Linked DNA regions of Homo sapiens. The protein of the gene in region 3 purifies or fractionates together with the protein of the main gene of each other region. This does not show direct contact. Each region holds a gene or a part of one and is shown on either strand. Other genes may lie near its edges.

What was found.
Region 1: the proteins of USP3 (region 3) and ZFAND6 fractionate together in Homo sapiens (co-fractionation; one large-scale study listed by BioGRID). This does not show direct contact.
Region 2: the proteins of USP3 (region 3) and GNAL purify together in Homo sapiens (affinity purification with mass spectrometry; one large-scale study listed by BioGRID and IntAct). This does not show direct contact.

What each region holds. Positions count from the first base shown.
Region 1 is NC_000015.10:80,062,551-80,066,209, reverse strand, and holds part of ZFAND6 (AN1-type zinc finger protein 6), read right to left. Parts: intron 1-3,659. UniProt on the Homo sapiens protein: Involved in regulation of TNF-alpha induced NF-kappa-B activation and apoptosis. Involved in modulation of 'Lys-48'-linked polyubiquitination status of TRAF2 and decreases association of TRAF2 with RIPK1.
Region 2 is NC_000018.10:11,883,709-11,886,328, forward strand, and holds the end of GNAL (guanine nucleotide-binding protein G(olf) subunit alpha), read left to right. Parts: 3' UTR 1-736; coding exon of another isoform or gene 737-919; 3' UTR 920-1,320; coding exon of another isoform or gene 1,321-1,335; 3' UTR 1,336-1,967; downstream 1,968-2,620. Other genes in the region: MPPE1 (metallophosphoesterase 1), read right to left, coding at 737-919, 1,968-2,108. UniProt on the Homo sapiens protein: Guanine nucleotide-binding protein (G protein) involved as transducer in olfactory signal transduction controlled by G protein-coupled receptors (GPCRs).
Region 3 is NC_000015.10:63,507,474-63,511,132, reverse strand, and holds part of USP3 (ubiquitin carboxyl-terminal hydrolase 3), read right to left. Parts: intron 1-3,659. UniProt on the Homo sapiens protein: Deubiquitinase that plays a role in several cellular processes including transcriptional regulation, cell cycle progression or innate immunity.

The DNA.
Region 1 (3,659 bases), about 17 Mb from region 3:
ACCTTCTATTATTTATTTACTTCCTAGACACTTGTCGAAATCTGAAAATTCTTTATTCGTTGGTTTGTCTATATTGACAGACTGTAACTGGATGAAGGCAAGAGACCTTGTCTTGTACATAGTTGTGTCCTCAGCACTTGGCAGAATGTCTAGATGGAGCAGGTGCTTAAATACTTGTTGAAAAAATAAAAACTGCAACTGCAGGGGTTTTTAAATATATAAACATAAAAATATTACTCATCAAAATTTAAGTAATATAGCTAAAGCTATGCTCAGAGGAACATTCAATAGGATTACATTTTTTCATTATAAAACATAAAATATTATAAAAGTTGCAATTTTTTTAAGTTAAAAAATTCAAAACTGGCCAGGCACAGTGGGTCACGCCTGTAATCCCAGCACTTTGGGAGGCCGAGGTGGGTAGATCACCTGAGGTCAGGGGTTCGAGACCAGCTTGGCCAACACGATGAAACCCTATCTCTACTAAAAACACAAAAATTAGCCAGGTGTGGTGGCACACCCCTGTAATCCCAACTACTCAGAAGGCTGAGGCATGAGAATCACTTGAACCTGGAGACAAAGGCTGCAGTGAGCCAAGATCATGCCATCACACTCCAGCCTGGGCAACAGAGTAAGACTCTGTCTCCAAAAAAAAAAAAAAAAAAAAAAAAATCAAAACCAAAACTAATTTGAAGCCCCAAAAGAATAAACTAAAAAATCTGAGGACTAACAAAGCAACAACCAAAAAAGGGGGATGGGGGGGAGACTTAAACAATAACAGAAACACACTTGTTTACAAAATGAAAATACCATGCCCCATGTATACAAGTGTACACTGGTACCAAATCATTGATATTTCAATAAAACCTAAAAAGAACCAAGAAGATGTGCATTTAACATATGATAAAGGCAGCTTTATTTCAAGGCAACAAGTTGTTTTTTTTTTTAGTGGGGCCAAAATTTTTAAGGAAAAATAAGGGAGGTTATTTCACTTCACATATGTCAAAATAAATCCCAGATGAACAGAAAAAGACAGATGTGAAATATGAAACCGTAAAAGAACTAGAAGAAAACTTAACTGGGTAGGAGAAGCCTTTAAATATAAAAGCAAAGTAGAAGCCATAAAAGAAAGTATTAACCTAATTTTCTTAAAAAGTAAAAACCCTTGCCTGTTTTTTTGTTTTGTTAAAAAAAAAAAAAAAAAAAAGGGGGAGAGAGAGAGAGCAAGAGAAAAGACAACACTGTTAGGTAAATGAAGAGCCAGGAAAAATATTTGCATGCCAGGCCCAGTGGCTCATACCTGTAATCCCAGCACTTAGGGAGGCCAAGGCAGGTAAATTGCTTGAGCCCAGGAGTTTGAAACCATTCTGGGCAACATGGTAAAACCCCATCTCCACAAAAAATTGCCAGGCATGGTGGGGAACGCCTGTAATCCCAGTTACACAGGAGGCTGAGGCGGGATAATCACTTCAGCCCAGGAAGTAGAGGCCTCAGTGAACCATGACTGCACCACTGCCCTCTATCCTGGGTGATAGAGCAAGACCGTGTCTCAAAAAACATTTTAAAAAACCCAAACATACGTGTGTGTGTGTGTGTGTGTGTATGTATACATGTGTATATATATTTGTGTGTATATGTATATTTGCAGTATATAGCAGAGTTGCTATCCTAAATCCTAAAAATATAAAAAGTTTAAAAGGGTATCACAAATATAAAACACCAGCCAAAATGGGCAAAAGATAAACTAGAAGATGTCCAATATCCAGGTTTATTTACCATCATAATTAATTAAAGAAATATATGATGATTCCTATAGAAAGGGAAGGAAAGATGGAGGGTAGATGGATAGACAGATAATGCTGGTAAAGATATACAAGAAATGTGTATTCTGTCATATTTTTAGTCAAATTTGATATTAAAGTTTGATGTTAGTCAAACTTTTAAGGACAAAATTTGGCAATATTTATGAAAAGACTTTAAGAAATGTTCATATGCTTTGATTCAGTGATTGTAAGACAGACTAGATCCGAAAGAAACAATGACAAATACATAGTAGTAGCTCTTATATTTATCACACTACTTATAATAATAAGAAAAAAATAATAAACTTAAGTTACACCCAACAGATAACTAGGTTATAGTACTTTTATAAGATGGAACTGTCCATGTGGGTAACCACTAGTCATATGTGGCTACCGAGCACTTGAAATGTGGCCAGTCTGGGTCAGACATGGTGGCTCACGCCTGTAATCCCAGCACTTTGGGAGGCCAAGGCAGGCAGATCATTTGAGGCCAGGAGTTCAAGACCAGCCTGGCCAACATGGTGAAACGCGGTCTCTACTAAAAACATAAAAATTTAGGCCGGGTGCAGTGGCTCACACCTGTAACCCTAGCATTTTGGGAGGCCTAGGCAGGTGGATCACCTGAGGTCAGGAGTTTGAGACCAGGCTGGCCAACATGCTGAAACCCCCTCTCTACTAAAAATACAAAAATTAGCTGGGTGTAGTGGCATGCACCTGTAGTCCCAGCTACTGGGGAGAGGCTGAGGCAGGAGAATCGCTTGAACCCAGGTTGCTGTGAGCCGAGATTGTGCCACTGCACTCTAGCCTGTATAACAGAGTAAGATTCCGTCTCAAAAAAAAAAAAAAAAATTAGCTGGGCGTGGTGGTGCATGTCTGTAGTCTCAGCTACTCGGGAGGCTGAGGAACAAGAATCACTTCAACCTAGGAGACAGAGGTTGCGGTGAGCTGAGATCGCACCGTTGCACTCCAGCCTGGGAGACAGAGCAAGACTCTGTCTCAAAAAAAATACAAAAAAAGAAATGTAGCTAGTCTGAATTGAGATGTACTTTAAGTGGAAAATACACACCAAATTATAAAGACAGTCTAAAAAAAGACAACTATCCCATCAACAATTTCTTATACTGATTACATGTTGAAATAATAGTTTTTGGGTTACATAAAACGTATTTTCACCAGTTTCTCTTTTTTTCATAATGTGGCTACCAGAAAATTTTAAATTACTTAATGTAGCTCCCATTTGTGACTAACGTTGTATTTCTAGTGGACTTTGCTGGTCTGAGGTATATAAGCCACAGTAAGAGGTTTCAATTTTATTTGGTATATTGAAAAGCTACTGGGAGGTTTTGAGTCAGAGAGTAAGATACTGTAATTTACAAATTTACACATTTAAATGAAGCAGAAGAGTAGAAAAGTTGAAGCAATGGTAACAGATGACTTCTATTATCATCTTATATGAAATAAGATGGTGAGGCAGATTACATTTCGGTAAGTTCTTAAGAAAGAGCCAGGCTGAGAGTGTTTAGAATGGACTCTTAATAGTTTAGGATATTAAGAATACACACATAAAGACCAGGGGTATACCTGACAAAATGTTAATAATAGTTATCTATCATGGTGTTATAGGTGGCTTTTCTTAGTAACTTTCTATTCTTTCTCAAGTTTGAGGGGGAAAACCCCATATACACATTGTCCTTATAATTAAATAAAAAATAAGGTTTTTAAAAGCAGAATACAGCCCTACCAAAACAAAGCATCCTGATATTTGTCTGCAAGCTACATATAGAAAAAATGAAACCATCTCTACTCCCATGCCTTCAAACAAAAAGGTTATTCAAAATTACATGTAAATTCACACTT
Region 2 (2,620 bases), on a different chromosome or scaffold from region 3:
TTTTTTGAGACGGAGTCTCACTCTGTTGCCCAGGCTGGAGTGCAGTGGCATGATCTTGGCTCACTGCAACCTCCGCCTCCCGGGCTCAAGGGATTCTCCTGCCTCAGCCTCAGCTGGTATTATAGGCACTTGCTACCATGCTTGGCTAATTTTTGTATTTCTAGCGGAGACGAGGTTTCACCATGTTGGCCAGGCTGGTCTTGAACTCCTGACCTCAAGTGATCCACCCGCCTCAGCCTCCCAAAGTGCTGGGATTACAGGTGTGAGCCACTGTGCCCGGCCACATCTGTACTTTTAAGGGTACAGCTTTACAGTACATAGGAATTTGAGAACCACTTCACAGGAAGAGGGAAACAGCCCAATATTTATTTATGTATACACATAATCCCAAGTGTGTGCTGGGGCCACCAGGCCCTTCCTGGGGGAACAAGGACTGTCGTGCATGTGAGTGACGACATTAATAGCATTTACATACTGTACAGATGCAACCTTTGATGATACATATATTTGATAAAAATGAGAAAACAGATTTGTTGTAGAGTACCTGTCCACTTTTATAGCATGAGAACAGTACAATCAACTATTTATTTTGCAGTTACTCATTTCAGTGATTGAGAATTTCTGTGCTGTGCAGAGAGACGGCCTGTAATTGGTCTCATCATCCACTTGATTCTAACATGATCTCTGCCCAAAGTTCCATTTCTTGGGCTTTGATATTTATAATGGCGCCTGCTCTTCATCTTGTCTTACGCTTTCCGAGCAAGTTCAAACCAGAAAGAAAAGGTGAGGCTAGAAGCCCAAAGTGAGTGAGTGTGAGGACCACAAGGAAGCCCACCACTCCACAGTAGATGATCAAAACCACATCCTCACGTGGGAGGTAGCACTTGGAGAGGGTGTAGTCTGTGGGCGTGATGCTACCCTGGAAAGGAGAAGGGAAAGTTATGCTGAGAGCACCAGGCACACGTTGAACACCGCAGTCTTAGAAACAGCAGAGGGAAGACTGCCTTCTCAGGTCCCCCTCAGGTGAGGCAGGGAACGGGCCCTCCTCACCTGAGACCAAGGGGGCCCAGCCTTCTCCCTGCACAGCTCACCCCCGACCAGCCCAGGCTCCAGCAGGAGAGACAAGTAAGGCCCAAGTGTGCCTGAGTGGAAAATGTCTGGGACACTGACCTGTCAAAACTGGCCCCTGGCTCACTGGGTTCCCATCAAATATAGTGGGGGATCCATAACAGAGATTCAGAGAGGCACCGTGGAGTTCCAGGGTCATCGGTCAGCGAGGAACAAGGAGGGAAAGGTGTCTTCCTGCCCCTTGATGCTCAACTAAGCATCTGTTCCCTAGAAATACATGTGTCCAGGTCGTCTCCATGGGCTTTTCTTTGCAGATACTTTTATGTGGAACAACAGTGGCAAATGTTTTCATTTACTTTGAATTTGAAAATGTTAGGGTTTCCTCCACCTTTTTATGAAGTAAAAGAACCTGTCGTACCAGCATCATGAGCTGGATGCAGGAGCCCATGGCTGAAAGGAGTTAAAACGCCCAGTGGTCATTAAGTGAAACATCTTTTATCAACCTGCAAAAGCTGCAGCGTTCTCTGCCAGGTCAAATGGGCATGTTTAGAAAATAAGAGAAGATGGCTGAGTATAGCTAATGAATAAATGGTTGTTTCTTTAGAAAATTAAACACACACAGAGTGTAAGAGGAGAGGATACGGCCCTCCCTGAAGGATAAAGTCCACCTGGACGGTGCCCTGCCCTCGCTTCTCACATTAACTGCCCAGGAATGTCATGCTGATTGGTTCCCGGAAGGGTGTTTGGCAAGGGGCAGTGTATGGAGCTACGTGTAGAAGGAGAGAAATTTGTGTGTGGCTTTTGTAAATTTTGACCGATTGCAGCAATTAAATAGTTGATTACTGTGTTGATTTAAATACTTATGAAAGCTTTCAGACAAAAATAAACTTTCACGTTACCATGATGAAACTGGGGTTGTTTCTGTTCCTCCAACTGAAAGATGGGACGCTGAGCTCGGGGACTCGGCCCCCGTGGTGCACCTCGCAGGCGCTGTGCGTGTGGCCACTGAGAACCAGGCGCGGCTGGAGCCACCACAGCAGCTGACAGTGGCCGAGAAGACAGCAAAGCAGGCTGTTAGCTCATCCTCAACCAGGCTCTCACCGCTCAGCAGACGGCCGCTGGCCATCGCTTCTTTCCTTAAATTACATACTAAATCCTTATTTTGAAGGACTGGTTTATTTTTTTCCTTAAAAATCCTTTGGTTTATTTACACTAAATCAAAGGTAAGGTCAGCCCTTTGTTCTCATCCCAGATTTTATATACTTTTTACGGTATTTTATCTTTATAAATATTTTATACATTTATCTTATAAATATTTCTTATATTTATATATTATGTATAATGTAATATGTATTATATAAATCTATATAAGAAAATGCATTTTAATTTTAATTAAGTCCCTAAAAAATTGACTTTTCAGTTCCATTCACATTTCTAAATACATTTAAGTTGGTGAAAAACTCTGAATACAAAGAATAGCTGAGACTATTACTGACTTGAGGGTAGGAAACAGAAGTAGGTTTACTGGAAAAAAAAAAAGCGATTAAATGAA
Region 3 (3,659 bases):
GGATGAATAATTAATTAAATTAGTCAGGATTAAATGCTAGCAAACTGCTTTGAAGTTACTTTATGTTGTTCTCAGTTATCTTCCTACTCAGTAAAACTAATAGATGAGAAAACATCTGGAATTACTATAGATAATCACATCTGCAGACTCACAGCAGTTAAAAAGACGATCTCTACAAATTTCTAAGCCAAAGTTCATTCAACGACCCCAAAGATTTTAAGATACAACCACAATGAACAATTTTAGGTGAATTTCTTTTCAGTCTCAAGGACACCTATTCTTACCTACATTCTCAAAAGAAACCACTACACAGAAATCTCAGAGCATCTTGAGGGGTCTTGGCACAAGACAATTCTAGGTAAGATGAACAAGCTGTTACTGTTGTTAATGCTATTCTCAGCATTCTAAACTGTCAATCAAGGTAAGCTTAATCACAAACACACCCTCCAAAAAGTACTAGCCCCTACTGAGAACCCATCAAAGTACTTCCTTCCAAGCCATCTGTCCAGGAAAGCTCTATTAACACACCTAGAATGCAATTGCTCTCCTGTCTAAAGAGGCAATGAATAAACATAAAATATCAAAATATGTTAAACAGCATACCTTTTCCACTTCAAACAATGATAATCTACCGACTAAATCTATTTATTTCAATGCCTTGGTTGAACACAAACCTGTATGTATGTAGGTCAGAGACTGCAGCTTAATCAAAGGAGACTAACATTTTGTTTTCAAAGAAGGAAAAATATTAAAAACAAACAAACAAGCTCAAGAAGGGGAGAAAAGCTCAAAAAGAAAAAAAACGAGCAGGTTAGGTTAGGGGAAATGTACATGTTAATCAGCTCCTGATGGAAGAGGGACTCAAATTTTAAAACAGGAATTTAAATGACTCACTGAGCTACACACTAAATTACTCACTGGTCTACTCACTGAGCTGCAAACACTATAAAAACATAAGTATTTCTAAATCTAGCTTGAAGGATCCAAAATCAATCTTTTATATTCCAGTGGAGAAGGAAATTACATACATTTCAATGAGGAAAAAGGAGGCTGTTACACGAGCCTAAGGCTAATGGTGTACAAGCAAAGAATGAGAATAAATTATTTTGAGGATAAATAACAGGAAACCACACCAAAGAGTTCGAATTCTTCCCCCAACTCCATCATTTCTTCTGCTTAGACCATGAAGGATGTTCTGTATACACTATTAAGCATATTATTAGGGAAAGAACTTCTCATCAATGTGTCAAAACTTCTTCACAACAAGTAAATGTTAGGCTCAATCTCTATACTGAAGCTTCTTTAAACAAAACACATACATGGAGCACATTCTAAATTTCACACATTTCACATCCATGAGCAATCATTTAGAGACTCTAGAAATAAGCTGAGATTGCTCTAAGATTCTGGGGGACGGGGTTGGGGAGGAATACTGCAGAAAGACTAGAAAGACATTTGACTTAAGCTTTATAAATATTACCAAAAAAGTTTAAATTCTTCAGAAGGATATATAAAACTCAAATACTACTTTTTAGAATTAATGTGAAAAAAGTATCACCTGTCCACTGATTTTTAACTACCCCATCCACATTTACAACTAAATTGTCCACCTGCCCATCTATAAATACAGACTGCCAAAAGAACACAAATTCATTGTGATAACAACACTGCAGATGGTCATTTGCTCACAATCCAGCCAACGTTTACTGACTAAAATACTGGGAGTGCGGGCTAGTGAAAGCATTCTGGGGAAAGTTCACTCTGCGTTTATTTTCAACATAAAGACCCTGCCAGACACATCTAAGTGATAGTTCCTTTATTTATCAGGCAAATATTTACTAATTGCTCTATTAAGTATTAGGCACTTAATAAAGACATCATAGAATGTTACTAAAAAGCAGTAAAAGCATTTGACCTAATGACAAGGAAATGACTGATTGTATTTAGAAAATTTAGTCCACTGGGCAAACGAGTGTTAAATGTAGGTTGTGGAGAAATACGATACAAAATAACCCATCACTCCATCAAGGTTGATTTCTTCTCTTTATCACAACCTGATCAGTCCATTACAAATTTATTACCACTGACAACCAATAATCAACACCTCATCCTACTGAATGGATCTCTTAAAAAAGGGTTTATCTCCAGTATTTTGGGTGGAATTATCTGCAGTTTTTGGTGCAAAATTGCAGAACATTTACTTGATCTACACTTACTTTTCTTGGGTAGAGTAATATGAAGGCAAGTGTGTACTGAAAACTTAAAGAGGCACTCTCAACTCATTGAAGAATTAATCAGGGAAAAATTAGCATGCCTATCCTACTAAATATCTCTAATTTAACTGGCTGTTTAACCCAAACCCTCAAGTTCAAATGCTTGGTCCTTGGCTTTCCTTAGTTATCAAAACACTTGCATTCAGGGCATCTTTTTAAACAATTTTTGTTTTTTCCCACTGGTTAAACTCTTTTACCCACAAAAATAAGGAATGCCCAAGCCTCCAACTTCTGAAAATAACATCTGGTATGTGCACATAACAAAAAGCTTGAGAGAATGCCCTTTTATTTAAAACTTTTTCATTTTAAACTAGAATCCCTTAAGCAACAATTAGACATAAATCAGCCTTTACGTTATTAGGAGATAGCTATTTTCAACATTTACCTTAAACCACATGGATGTATCTTCTAACTAGTTAGCTTCCTGTCTCTCCCCCAGCTAGATTAGACTGTTAACTTTTTTGGCAGCAAAGGACTACTAGAGCCCATGCTCTATTTCCCAGCTAATACATTTCAAAAACCTCAGGTCTCTACAGAAACATAAACGTTGGTAGCCTTAAGGATTTCTCTAATTTTTTAAAGTTATTTTGATATGAGCAGGTATCCTTAACTGTTAACTATAGCTTACACAAGTGGGTTCTCAAAGTGTGGTCCTGGACCCCTGAAAGTTTCCAGGACCCATTCAGGGGATCCAGAAGGTCAAAACAATTTTCATACATAATATTTAAGATGTTACTTTTGTTTACAGTCATTCTCTCACAAGCATGCAGTGGGGTGTTCCTGAGGCTGCATGATGTGACATCTCAAGAGACTGAATGCAGAAGCAATGTAAGAATCCAGCTGTCTTCTATAAAGCTGAACAAAGAGTTACAAAAAGGCAAAATAATGCCATTCTTCCCACTAAATTTTTGTTTTGAAAAACATTTTACATAAACTGTCAATTTATGTTATGGGTGTGGGTCTATTATTATTTGTAAGCATATTAATAAATACATATTTTAAGTTTTTCTCAGTTTTAATTTCTAATAAACATCATCAACAGATATAAGCTACACGAAGGCTCTTCAGGTGCTCAACAATTTTTAAGAGTGTAAAGGGGTCCTAAGATCAAAAAGTGTAAGAACCACTGTCATACACAATTATATAACCCAACACACAGTGCCTTCCATGGATAAGAAGCTCATGCTAATTCTGAAGTATAATTACTTCTTACTTCTTGTAATCTTGTTGAGTTCTGTATCTCCCTGTAAAGCATCATTCAGCATAAAGCCAGTCTGTTCTAGTCCCCATTTAATGGGCTTTGGATATTTAATTATTCAGAGTCCTCTTTACAAAGATGTTCTGACCTCTAATACCACCTATTACTAGAACAGTGTATACAAGTTT